3 linked regions of the Homo sapiens genome follow. The protein of the gene in region 2 purifies or fractionates together with the protein of the main gene of each other region. This does not show direct contact. Each region holds a gene or a part of one and is shown on either strand. Other genes may lie near its edges. The genes, in order: NUSAP1, HPDL and LSM12.

Evidence for each region.
Region 1: the proteins of HPDL (region 2) and NUSAP1 fractionate together in Homo sapiens (co-fractionation; one large-scale study listed by BioGRID). This does not show direct contact.
Region 3: the proteins of HPDL (region 2) and LSM12 fractionate together in Homo sapiens (co-fractionation; one large-scale study listed by BioGRID). This does not show direct contact.

The regions. Positions count from the first base shown.
Region 1 is NC_000015.10:41,339,376-41,343,023, forward strand, and holds part of NUSAP1 (nucleolar and spindle-associated protein 1), read left to right. Parts: intron 1-3,010; coding exon 3,011-3,079; intron 3,080-3,648. UniProt on the Homo sapiens protein: Microtubule-associated protein with the capacity to bundle and stabilize microtubules. May associate with chromosomes and promote the organization of mitotic spindle microtubules around them.
Region 2 is NC_000001.11:45,325,361-45,329,108, reverse strand, and holds HPDL (4-hydroxyphenylpyruvate dioxygenase-like protein), read right to left. Parts: upstream 2,215-3,748; 5' UTR 1,961-2,214; coding exon 845-1,960; 3' UTR 399-844; downstream 1-398. UniProt on the Homo sapiens protein: Iron-dependent dioxygenase that catalyzes the conversion of 4-hydroxyphenylpyruvate (4-HPPA) to 4-hydroxymandelate (4-HMA) in the mitochondria, one of the steps in the biosynthesis of coenzyme Q10 from tyrosine.
Region 3 is NC_000017.11:44,035,624-44,039,271, forward strand, and holds part of LSM12 (protein LSM12), read right to left. Parts: intron 2,562-3,648; coding exon of another isoform or gene 2,466-2,561; intron 1,916-2,465; coding exon 1,789-1,915; intron 1,480-1,788; coding exon of another isoform or gene 1,282-1,479; exon of another isoform or gene 1,239-1,281; intron 678-1,238; coding exon 585-677; 3' UTR 1-584. UniProt on the Homo sapiens protein: Nicotinic acid adenine dinucleotide phosphate (NAADP) binding protein. Confers NAADP sensitivity to the two pore channel complex (TPCs) by acting as TPC accessory protein necessary for NAADP-evoked Ca(2+) release.

The sequences.
Region 1 (3,648 bases), on a different chromosome or scaffold from region 2:
GAAATATGAGTGTTTATTACATTACTTCGACTTTTCTTTTTTTTTTTTTTTTGAGACGGAGTTTCGCTGTTGTTGCCCAGGCTAGAATGCAACGGCATGATCTCAGCTCACTGCAACCTCCACCTCCTGGATTCAAGCAATTCTCTTGCCTCAGCCTCCCAAGTAGCTGGGATTACAGGCATGTGCCACCATGCCCAGCTAATTTTGTATTTTTAGTAGAGACAGGGTTTCTCCATATTGTTCAGGCTGGTCTGGAACTCCTGAACTCAGGTGATCTGACTGCCTCAGGCCTCCCAAAGTGCTGGGATTACAGGCGTGAGCCACCACACCCAGCCTACTTTGACTTTTCTATAGGCCTGACTTTTTTTCTAATAACAATTTAGGGGAAGAAATTAATTTTTTTTCTATTTTTTTATTTTTTTTGAGACAGACTTTCGCTCTTGTCACCCAGGCTGGAGTGCAGTGGTGCGATTCCGGCTCACTGCAACCTCCACCTCCCAGGTTCAAGTGATTCTCCCGCCTCAGCCTCCTGAGTAGCTCAGACTACAGGTGCCCACCACCACGCCCAGCTATTTTTTGCAGACATGGGGTTTCACCCTGTTGGCCAGGCTGGTCTTGAACTCCTAACTTTGGGTGATCTTCCTGCCTCGGCCTCCCAAAGTGCTAGGATTACAGGCATTAGTCACTGTACCTGGCTGAAATTCATAATTTTTGCTGTGGCCTTTACCTCTCTACTTGACCCAGCCTCTGGTCACATCTCTGATCTCCCTGCCCTCCATATACCTCAGTGTTCACCATACTTCTACCATAAGGGCAGTTTCTGTCTTTCAACTCATGAGTCCACCTCAGGGCTCCTGTTCTTGGCGCTCGCTCTGCTCGGAGTGCTCTTCACCTGCTGCCTCTTTCCTCATTCACATCTCGGGAGGCCTTTCCCAGCCATCCTAATTCAGGTAGCATCCCCACCCCACCCCAGTTGCCCAGTTTTATTTTTGCATCATAATACCTGACGTCATATCATTCATTTCTAGCTTTCTTGGGTAACTGTTTCACCTCTGCTAGAAGATCCTGGAGGGCAATCACCTTGTCTGTTTAATTAATCACTCTCTAGTGTCTGGAACAGTGCCCAGCACAATAAATGCTTGTTGAAGGAATGCATGAATATATGCTGATAACTAACATCTGCACCTTCAGCACAACTCTTGAACACCACCTCATATCATTCAACCTCCTCACTGGGTTCTGCCACAGGTGCCTCACTTCATGCATTTTTGTATGTTTGGTGAGATTTTGAAGGTATATTAAGAGAGTATTAGAAAAATCAAGAATGCCTGAATTCTGCCCTGCCAATCATCCCCTTCCCAGAGAAAACCTCAAGGGTGGTTCAAGGAACAAGTAGAAAATAAGGTACCACTTTATTACTAGCTGAAATAGTGCCTGATATCTTGATGCAGAGCATTCTGGTAAAGTGGATTGGAGACTGTGGCTTAGGCTTGCACCACAAGCAAAAGCTTGAGCACAAACCAAATTTCAGGATCTCTGCTATTCTCTACTGGACACATGGCCCATGATAAAAGGCATGAGAAGAATAGAGCCAAGCCTGGTGGCTGGGCCCACCTTGAGAAGGATGGCTGTGGCCCTCAACTGCATGGCTGGGTGGAAGAGGAAGAAAAAAAGAACCCAACCAAAAAACTTGACTTTTGTTTTTTAAACGGAGTCTTGCTCTATCGCCCAGACTAGAGTGCAGTGGCATCATCTCCTCGGCTCACTGCAACCTTCGCCTCCTGGGTTCAAGCAATTCTTCTGCCTCAGCCTCCCAAGTAGCTGGGACTACAGGCACACACCACCATGCCCGGCTAATTTTTGTTTTTTTATTAGAGACGGGGTTTCACCATGTTGGCCAGGCTGGTCTAAAACCCCTGACCTCGTGATCCACCTGCCTCGGCCTCCCAAAGTGCTGGAATTACAGGCATGAGCCACCCCGCTCAACCAAACTTGACTTTTAAAGCACAGGAAAATGTAACCAATCAAATTAACATTGTTCTTTCAGGAAAGAACAAGAAGGGAGGTTTTCCTAGGCTGGGAAGAGAAGCTCAGTGTTCCCTTCCCCCGGCAGAGACCTACAACCATCCCCCTAAGACCCCGTCACCTTTTGCATTCCTCATCTTAGGGACCGTACCACACTTCACCAGCTGTCCAAGCCAGAAACGTTGGCATAACAAAGTTTCCCTCTTCCTCAACTCTCATGTTCACACTGATTTCACTTCCTAAGAAGGTTTTGACTTCATCCATACTGCCTTAGCCCCGCTCCAGTTCAGGCCACAGCATTTCTGGCTCATCCCCATCAAATGCATCTTGCACATTGTGCAGGTAGACTACTCATTCTGAGTAATGCAAAATTGGTCACCCACTGCCTTGCTGCAAACTCTTCAGAGACTGCCCTTTTCTCTGAGAGTAAAGTTCATACTCTTTAAAGGCTTACAAGGCCTGGTAACATCACGGCCCTGCTCACTTTCCCAACATTGTCTCTTACTATCTCCTACAAACAGGTCCATGTTCCAGCCACACTGAACTTAAGTTCTTCAAACTCCACCCTCATTGTTGCCTTGCTGTGCCATTCCTCTACCTCTTTCTCTACCTTCTCTTCATCCTTCAGATCTCAGCAATTAGAGACATCACATCTTTATCTGAGAACTGCCCTGTGCAGATACTTGCTGAAGTCTAACCTAGCAGTCCCAACTTTGATGGCCATGCCTACCTATGTTCTCATGACAGCCTGAGCCTCCTAGCGTGGGCATTTACCCCACTGTATTGCAATTGCCTCTTTCCTTGTCTAACTTTCCCACTCAGATGTGAAATTCCTTAGAGCAGAGACCCATTCTTTCTAAGTAATGGTTCTAGTCCTATGGTCTGACCAGAGTACATTTAATGAATACAAGAACAGCAAAAAATATTCAACGTATCTTCCTTGTTTATTTGACTTTTGGCTCTAATAATAAGGTCTCTCTTGCAGGCAACCAAGTTGTTAAAAGCCTTGAAAGGCTACATTAAACATGAGGCAAGAAAAGGAAATGAGAATCAGGTGAGTAATGTTTTTCATGTTTACCTGTTAGCTAGCAAAATAATCATATTTGGTTAATGGGCAATTAACACACAACTAGTGATGATTTAAGACATGCTGTTGGCCAGGTGTTGTGGCTCACGCCTATACTCCTAGCACTTTGGTAGGCAGTGGCAGGCGGATCACTTGAGTCCAGGAGTTCGAGACCAGCCTGGCCAACATGGTGAAACCCCGTCTCTACTAAAAATACAAAAATTAGCCAGATGTGGTGGCGGGAGCCTGTAATCCCAGCTACTCAGGAGGCTGAGACAGGGAGAATTGCTTGAACCCGGGAGGTGGAGGTTGCAGTGAGCCAGGATCGCGCCACTGTACTCCAGCCTGGGTGACAGAGCAAGACTCCGTTCAAAAAACAAAAAAAAAGATATGCTGTTTATTAAAAAAGAGATCATTATTGGTAATAGTGCCAAGGACTGAATCCTTTCAGATTAACTATCTGCTGTTGTGAATGGTGAAACTGTTTTGCGCCAAGTAATCTGTTGAATAACATGTTTTTACACAGATACAAAGGCTGAGTACTAGTTGCCAAGTAC
Region 2 (3,748 bases):
CACGCCCGCCCTTTTGTAGCTATTTTGGACAGCCTTCCACCCTCTCCCTAGCCCCCTCACCCCTTATATCTGAGGGAGGGACCCAGAAAAGTGGTGACGTTCTGCTTGGTTCTGACTTTCTCTGGCTGAACTCCCAGCCAGCCCCGGGCAGATGGGGTTGGAGTGGGGGTGTTCTGTCCAGACTGATCTGCCCTCCAACCCCCAGGAGAAAGGCAAGGCAGCTACAGGGAGAACCTGCCAGTGGCTGACACACAACACCCTCTGTTTACGTCTCAGGTCAGCTCTAATTGGAGTGGTGGCATCACTCTGGAGTAGGTAGTTGGGCTCAACTCTCACCCAGCCCCTCCCCACCTGAGTGGTCGCTCCCTAGGGGGAGAGGAAGCACAGGAGAAGATTTGTTCTGTTTTAAATTCCTACCTCAAATACGAAATAATTTATTTAGGGTTATGTTACATACGGAGTGAAACAATACAGAAAAGCAAAGGGCTAATAATGACAGGATTTGAGGAGTGGGTGGGAGGAAATAGAATCACAGCGGGACACAGGGAGGACTCGAAAGTATTGGTTATGTTCTATTTCCTAGTGTGTAATTCTTTTATTGTTCTTTGTATCTTACATATTTATTATAGACTGTATATAAGAAATGTTTTAGTTTTAAAAAATCCCACCTCTTTGGAGCCCAATGAGAGACACAGCTTCTGGCAGGCACTGATGAAATGGAAGTCACACCTGCCCCCCGGAGGCAAAGCCTTTCACTAGTTGGGCCTCCTGCAGATGTTCCTCAGTTCTGTGCTGGTCTCCCCAGAGCTGCAGGACAGCTGGCTGCACCCAGCCCTGGGCATCCTTAGGCTTCCTGGCTCCTGGCAGATTGCTCCTGTACGGACTGCCACAGAGCTCTGATGTTGCCCTGACCAAAGCCAGTGGCCCCCTGCCTCTGAATCAGCTCCAGGAAGAAAGTGTCCTCAGTAAAAAGGGACTTGGTGAAGACCTGAAGCAGAAACTTGCCTTTATCACCATCTAGCAGGATCCCCTGTCGAGCAAGCAGATGAGGCTCGTGCCCTGCAGCTCGGATCTGCCTCTCCTTTCCTGGCTGCTGGTAGTATGCCCCAGGGGGAGCCAGGAACTGGCCTCCAGCAGTTGCCACCCCCTCAGTGGCCTCCACAATGTTAGGCGTATACAGCCCCACGTGCTGCAGGCCTGGCCCCTTGTGCCGGGCCAGGAACTGCTCCACCTGGTCCTGTCGTGTCGTCGCCCCCGGAAGGGACTCAGCCAGAACAAGAGTGGGGACAATGCTGCCCGGCTGGGCCTGCAGGGCTGTAAGCCTCAGTCCCCCAAGCCCAAACCCTGCTGTCATTTCGAGGCCCAGCTCGGGATCCTCACCTGGGCTCAGCGGCAAGTGGCAAAAGCCCAGGCAGTCGTGGAACCAGCGCAAAAGTGTGGGGGAGCTGCCGGGGGTGCAGGCCAAGGTCAGGTGGTCCACGCGGCTGACCCACCCGGGGCCAGGCGCAGAGGACACGGGCCTGAAGCCGGGTAGGAAGGGTCCGCGGTAGCCAGCGCGCTCCAGCAAGGTCAGGCTGAGGATGCCGGCAGGCGAGCTGACCACGGCGTAAGTGGCGGCACCCTGCGCGTCCCGCACGCGAACGGGAGGGACAGGCACGCTGCAGCCCAGCGCTGCCAGCTCCCGGGTTGCAGCGCCGGCGTCCGCCACGTCGAAGCACAGGTTTGTGGCGCTGGGCACGGCGTGACGCGGATCCAGGCCGTACAGCGGCTCTCCAGACCCTGCGCCCTCGTTCACCAAAAAGACCGCGTCGCCGCTGCGCAGGGCTAGCTGCCGCCAGCCGTCCACCTCCCGCGAAGCCAGGGGCTGGAAGCCGAAGAGGCGCTGCAGGTTCCGGGCTAGGGGCTGCCCGGCGGGCACGTGGAAGGCGATGTGGCACAAACGAAGGGCGGGCGCGGCCATGGCGCTCTGGACGGCGACCTAGACTTGTCCTTCTGGGGCCGCTTACTTGTGGTTGGGGACTTCGGGGCTCTCAGTCCTGGGCTGATCGTCCGGAGTTGGGGAGTCCGGCTCACCCCGCAGAGCGCGTTCCTCGCTTTCTTCCGGAAAGAAGTCACCCGCCGACCCCTGAGAGCTCGCGGTTCTCCCTGCAGCGCCACCCCAGCCAGGAGCAGCGTCTGGACCACCGGGTCTCAGTGAGCCGAGCTGCTGGTTGTGAGAACCACGCGGTGCCTGTGCTCGCGCCAAGCAGGAGAAAGAGGGCGGAGCCCGTGACTCCGCCTTTGACTCCCCACCCCCTCCCCCACACCCTGTCGCCTCGGATACTGCGGGGTCGCCGCGCTGCTCTTTCCCCGGGCCTCACGCCTGGTCACATCCTTGGGCACTGAGCCTCCCTTCCCCAGCCCAGGAACTCACAATGGCTGCCTTCACTCGGCGCCAGGCACTGGGCTCCCACTCATCCCCCCAACCTCACAGCGAAGGGACTCAGCCCGGGTTCAGGGAAAGAGTTGGAATTCTCTCTCCACAAGCACGGAATTTTTTAGCACTTTCATGTTTTTTCTTTAAGTTCTGGAGTTTGCCTCTAAGTCTTAATGTTCCCTGGAATACACACACACACACACACACACACACACACACGTTTATATGTTTTGAGACAGGGTCTCACTCTGTCACCCAGGCTGGAGTGGCACAATCACAGCTCACTGCAGCCTCCACCTCCTGGGTTCAGGCGATTTTCCTTGCCTCAGTGCACAAATAGCTGGGACCACAGGCGGACGCCACCACACCCAGCTAATTAAAAATAATTTTTTTTTTTAGAAATGGGGTCTTGCTATATTGCCCAAGCTGGTTTTAAACCCCTGGGCTCAAGCCATCTTTCCACCTCAGCCTCCCAAAGTGTTGGGCAATCTCTCAACCAGTCCTGTCTCTTTCTTCAATCACCCTTCTGTCAACATCATTTAACCCCTTGTCCCAAGCAAGATTTGGAGGAAAAATCTGACGGTTCGGGATCTGAAAGGAACAGCTGCCTGGCTGTCATTCCCCTTCCCCATCCTTTGAGGACTGGAACACAGGCCCTCCTTGCTCTTTGCAGCTTCCTGACTTGGCATTGAGCCAGAGATTTCTGTGGTGGGGGCACTTCTGGCTCTGAAACCCAGAATTGTGTGAGATGACTGGATTGAGGAATTTGTAGTCTTCTGGAACTTCAACTGAGTGGCCCTTGAAGGGTTAGGGAAGGGCATCCAAGAAGGGCAAAGGGCATAAGCAAAAACTCAGTAAGAGTGTGAGCCAGACTCTTAGAGGAGCAATGGGCCATGCTGTTAGGGAGGCATTTAGGATGAATGCCACAGTCCAAGGCATCACAAGAAATTTTTTTGTCAGGCAGCCTGATCTACTGGGTTTCATTGGCAAGAGGGAGAAGGATGTCATAGGGGACAGGGGCTAGCTGGATGTCATGGTGTTCAGGCCTGCAGGCAGGAGGGCAGTACCCAGGAGCTGGTCAGGGTGGTAAAAGGTACTTGGTGCTACTCTGCAGACCAGTGAATGTGAGGACATGAGTTCCAAAAGCCAGACGGACCTGGGTTTGAATCACCAGCAACACTTACTGTCTGTATGGGCAAGTTGCTTAACGCCTCTGAGCCTTAATTTGCCCATCTGTAAAAATGGAAATAATAGTACCTACTTCAAAGAGTTGTGATTAAGTGAGGTGGAGTAAGTGTTCAGTAAATAGTAGCTGTTGCTATTGTAGTTACT
Region 3 (3,648 bases), on a different chromosome or scaffold from region 2:
ATATATATATTTAAAGTTAAGAAAAATAAAACTAATTCAAGCCATGCCCTGTGCAAAAAAAAAAAAAAAAAGAAAAAAGAAAAAAAAAGGAAAAGAAAACAAAAATTTAAAGTGAGACGTTTGCTGCTCTGGTCTCAATTTAAGAATCACAGTCAGCTTGTTACTTTTATTTTGGAAGAAAAGATGTAAAAGTTTCTTTCAATCATTCAGAAGGCAAGTGTAGCCACTTATAAAAACAGAATGGCAGGAACAAACTAGGAAAGGAAAGTCAGAAGTAAAGGGCAGAGTGGGAAAATAATTTTCAAAAATAAAATTAACAAGGTGACTGTTCCAGAAGAGGGCTGTGAAAAGGACATGGTGGACCGAAGTCTGTTAGTCAAGTAATGATTCAACTTTTAAATTATTCTCTTGTTCTTTTTTGTTGGGTGTTTTGTTTGTTCAAGTCTAAGATTTGGAAATGCTGACCCTTTGTTAAGAGCCAACAGGACATATAGGATCCCTTCCCTCCCCCGGCCTGCCTCCGCTGAAGCCACCACCAGCGCCTCCTTGGCTGGATGCTGGAAGAGTCCTCCATGTGTACGGACTCAGGATGACAGGGCAGCCTCCTTCTGTGGTTGCTGGGCTTGTGAACGTTGCAGTATCTTTTGGCTTTCCACGTCTCTAAAATGTTTTTCAACCTGAAAAAGACCAGGCAACCCAGGTCAACAAAGGAGATGCGGAAGAAAGGTCTCCCAAACAATCCAACCCAGGTTTCCACAGCCCCATCCTGGCTGTCCAGCCCATTGGTGTCCAGGCACCTTTGCCCTTGCTGTCTATTGGCCTTCCCAACCACAAGGTAGGCCAGGGCCTCCTGCTTCAGCCACATTTTTTTGCAGTTTCCACTAAGATTGGCTAGAAGAAGGTGAATCTACAAACTAAACTATAAAATATAATAAGGGGAGATTATCATGACCTAAACTCCTCCTCTCTTCTATACCCAAGTACAAAATGAAAAGCTGCTGGGGGAATTACAGTCTTATCAAACCTCCTACATCTACAATGTTGGTCTCTCAATGTTCCTCAGAGGAAAAAAAAAAAGCAGGAGTGTTTTTTAAGTTTGTTTTAACAAATGCTAAGTCCAGTGACATATGTAGGGTCAGAGACACCGACGGCAACTGATTTATACCAACCAGATCTTTCTAGAATGGTACCTGCAGCTAAGAAAAACCCAATATGGGGCCAGGCGTGGTGGCTCATACCTGCAATCCCAGCACTTTGGGAGGCCAAGGTGGGCAGATCACTTCAGGTCAGGAGTTCGAGACCAGCCTGGCCAACATGGTGAAACCCCATCTCTAGCCGGGTGTGGTGGCATACGCCTGTAGTCCCAGGTACTCGGGAGGCTGAGGCAGGAGAATCGCTTGAACCCGGGAGGCGGAGGTTGCAGTGAGCTGAGATCGCGCCACTGCACTCCAGCGTGGGCGACAGAGCGAGACTCTGTCTCTAAAAAAGAAAAACTCAATATGGGATGAGAGAAACTGCTCAGGCCCAATACCATGGAACAGTCTTCCTAATTCCAAAAAGCCAGCAAAGGACATAGGGTCACCCACTCACTTCTTTCCACACCACCCAGTGGTTCCATTCCCACAGGACTGCAGAACCCCACAGTACAGGGAAGGCAGGGAGGCCAGACAGGGCCTCTGCTGCTAGAGGAGGCAGAGACTGTAGCACAATGTCCTGGTCTGGTGCTAAAGACTGAAGGCCTGAGGAACCATCCTCTCTCCCCTAAAGTCTGAAGGCTCCTTTACTTACTATTTTGCGTACATGGCTCAGTGCACTCCCCTCTTTGCCTTTACAGTTTTCCACTTGATATGGGGGTGTAATAACAACTTCTTCCATGACTACGATGTTTTTTTCTTGCCATTTACAGTCTTTAATGCTGGAAGGAGAAGACAGCAGGCGAAATGTAACCTCTTGGGGGCATCCCACATCTCCTGTCTGATGAATAAATAACTCCAGAAGGCTGATCCCAAGTTCCCAGCTCACCACTCAGCCAACAACTAGATGCCAGCAGCCCATATAGTAGCCAAGAAACATTCCTTGGGTGCCACTGGCTAGAAAAGCAATGAAACTCATGCACATTTATTCTTGGGAGAGCCCAGAAATTGTTACTCTGAAGCATCAGAGATCTGGAGAGCCATAAAAATGTGATAGTGGCCTCAAGAATCCAAATTAAGATAGCAGCCTAGGGCAGAGGCTGGCAAACTTTTTCTCTTAAGGGTCTTGTAACAAACATTTTAGGCTTTGCAGTCCATATCATCTGTTACAACTAGCACTGAGTTCTGCCATAGTTGTACAAAAGTAGCATGGACAATAGGTAAAACAGATGAGCAGATGTGGCCTGCTGGCATAGTTTGTCAACCATTGGCCTAGGGAGAAATACCACCTTTAGAAAGACAGGAGAACAGGTCGGGCGCGGTGGCTCACACCTGTAATCCCCGCGCTTTGGGAGGCCGAGGTGGGTAGATTGCTTGAGTCCAGGAGTTCGAGACCAGACTGGGCAACAGGGCAAAAACTCGTCTCTACTAAAAATACATACAAAAAATTAGCCGGTAGTGGTGGCATGCGTCTGTAGTCCCAGTTACTCCGGGGGCTGAGGTGGGAGAATCACCAGAGCCGGGGAGATTGAGGCTATAGTAAGCTAAAATCGCACCACTGCACTCCCAACCTAGGCAATAAAAGTGAGACCCTGTCTCAAAAAAAAAAAAAAAAAAGAAAGGCCAGGCACAGTGGCTCACGCCTGTAATCCCAGCACTTTGGAGGCCGAAGTGGGCGGATCATGAGGTCAGGAGATCGAGACCATCCTGGTCAACATGATGAAACTGTCTCTACTAAAAATACAAAAATTAGCTGGGCGTGGGACTGCGCGCCTGTAGTCCCAGTTACTCAGGAGGGTGAAGCAGGAGAATCGCTTGAACCTGGGAGGCAGAGATTGCAGTGAGCCAAGATTGCACCATTGGACTCCAGCCTGGTGACAGAGTGAGACTCCGACTCAAAAAAAAGAGAGAGAGAACAAACTCCCCATCTTCCTATGATCTGTACTCTGACCCTTATCACCCATAATGGGAGCTGCTCTTCAGACTGGCTCTTCTCAATTATCAGACAGTTGGGCACTTGCCAGACTGGGAAAACCCATTCCAGTTCACACTTGGGAAGCCCCAGGGCAGCTGATGCGACTGGGAGTTCCTTCACATACCTGTAAATGTTCAGATACTCACACCACAGCCTCAAACAGCTCTGATGCCAGCTGCCATCTGTGCACCAGATCCAGGGTGGTTAAACAGAGTAACAGATGGCAGTGTGGGGTGGGGGGAGGCGGGGTGGAGAGGGGTGTCAAATGTTCCAGTTTTTCAGCAGCTAGGGAAGCTAGTGGAGAGTCAAATGACTTCTGCTGTGACAAAATGTTTTTTTTTGAGACGGAGTTTTGCTCTTGTTGCCCAGGCTGGAATGCAATGCACAATCTTGGCTCACCACAACCTCCACCTCCAGGGTTCAAGCGAATCTCCTGCCTCAGCCTCCTAAGTGGCTGGGATTACAGGTATGCACCACCACGCCTGGCTAATTTTGTATTTTTAGTAGAGATGGGGGTTTCAACATGTTGGTCAGGCTGGT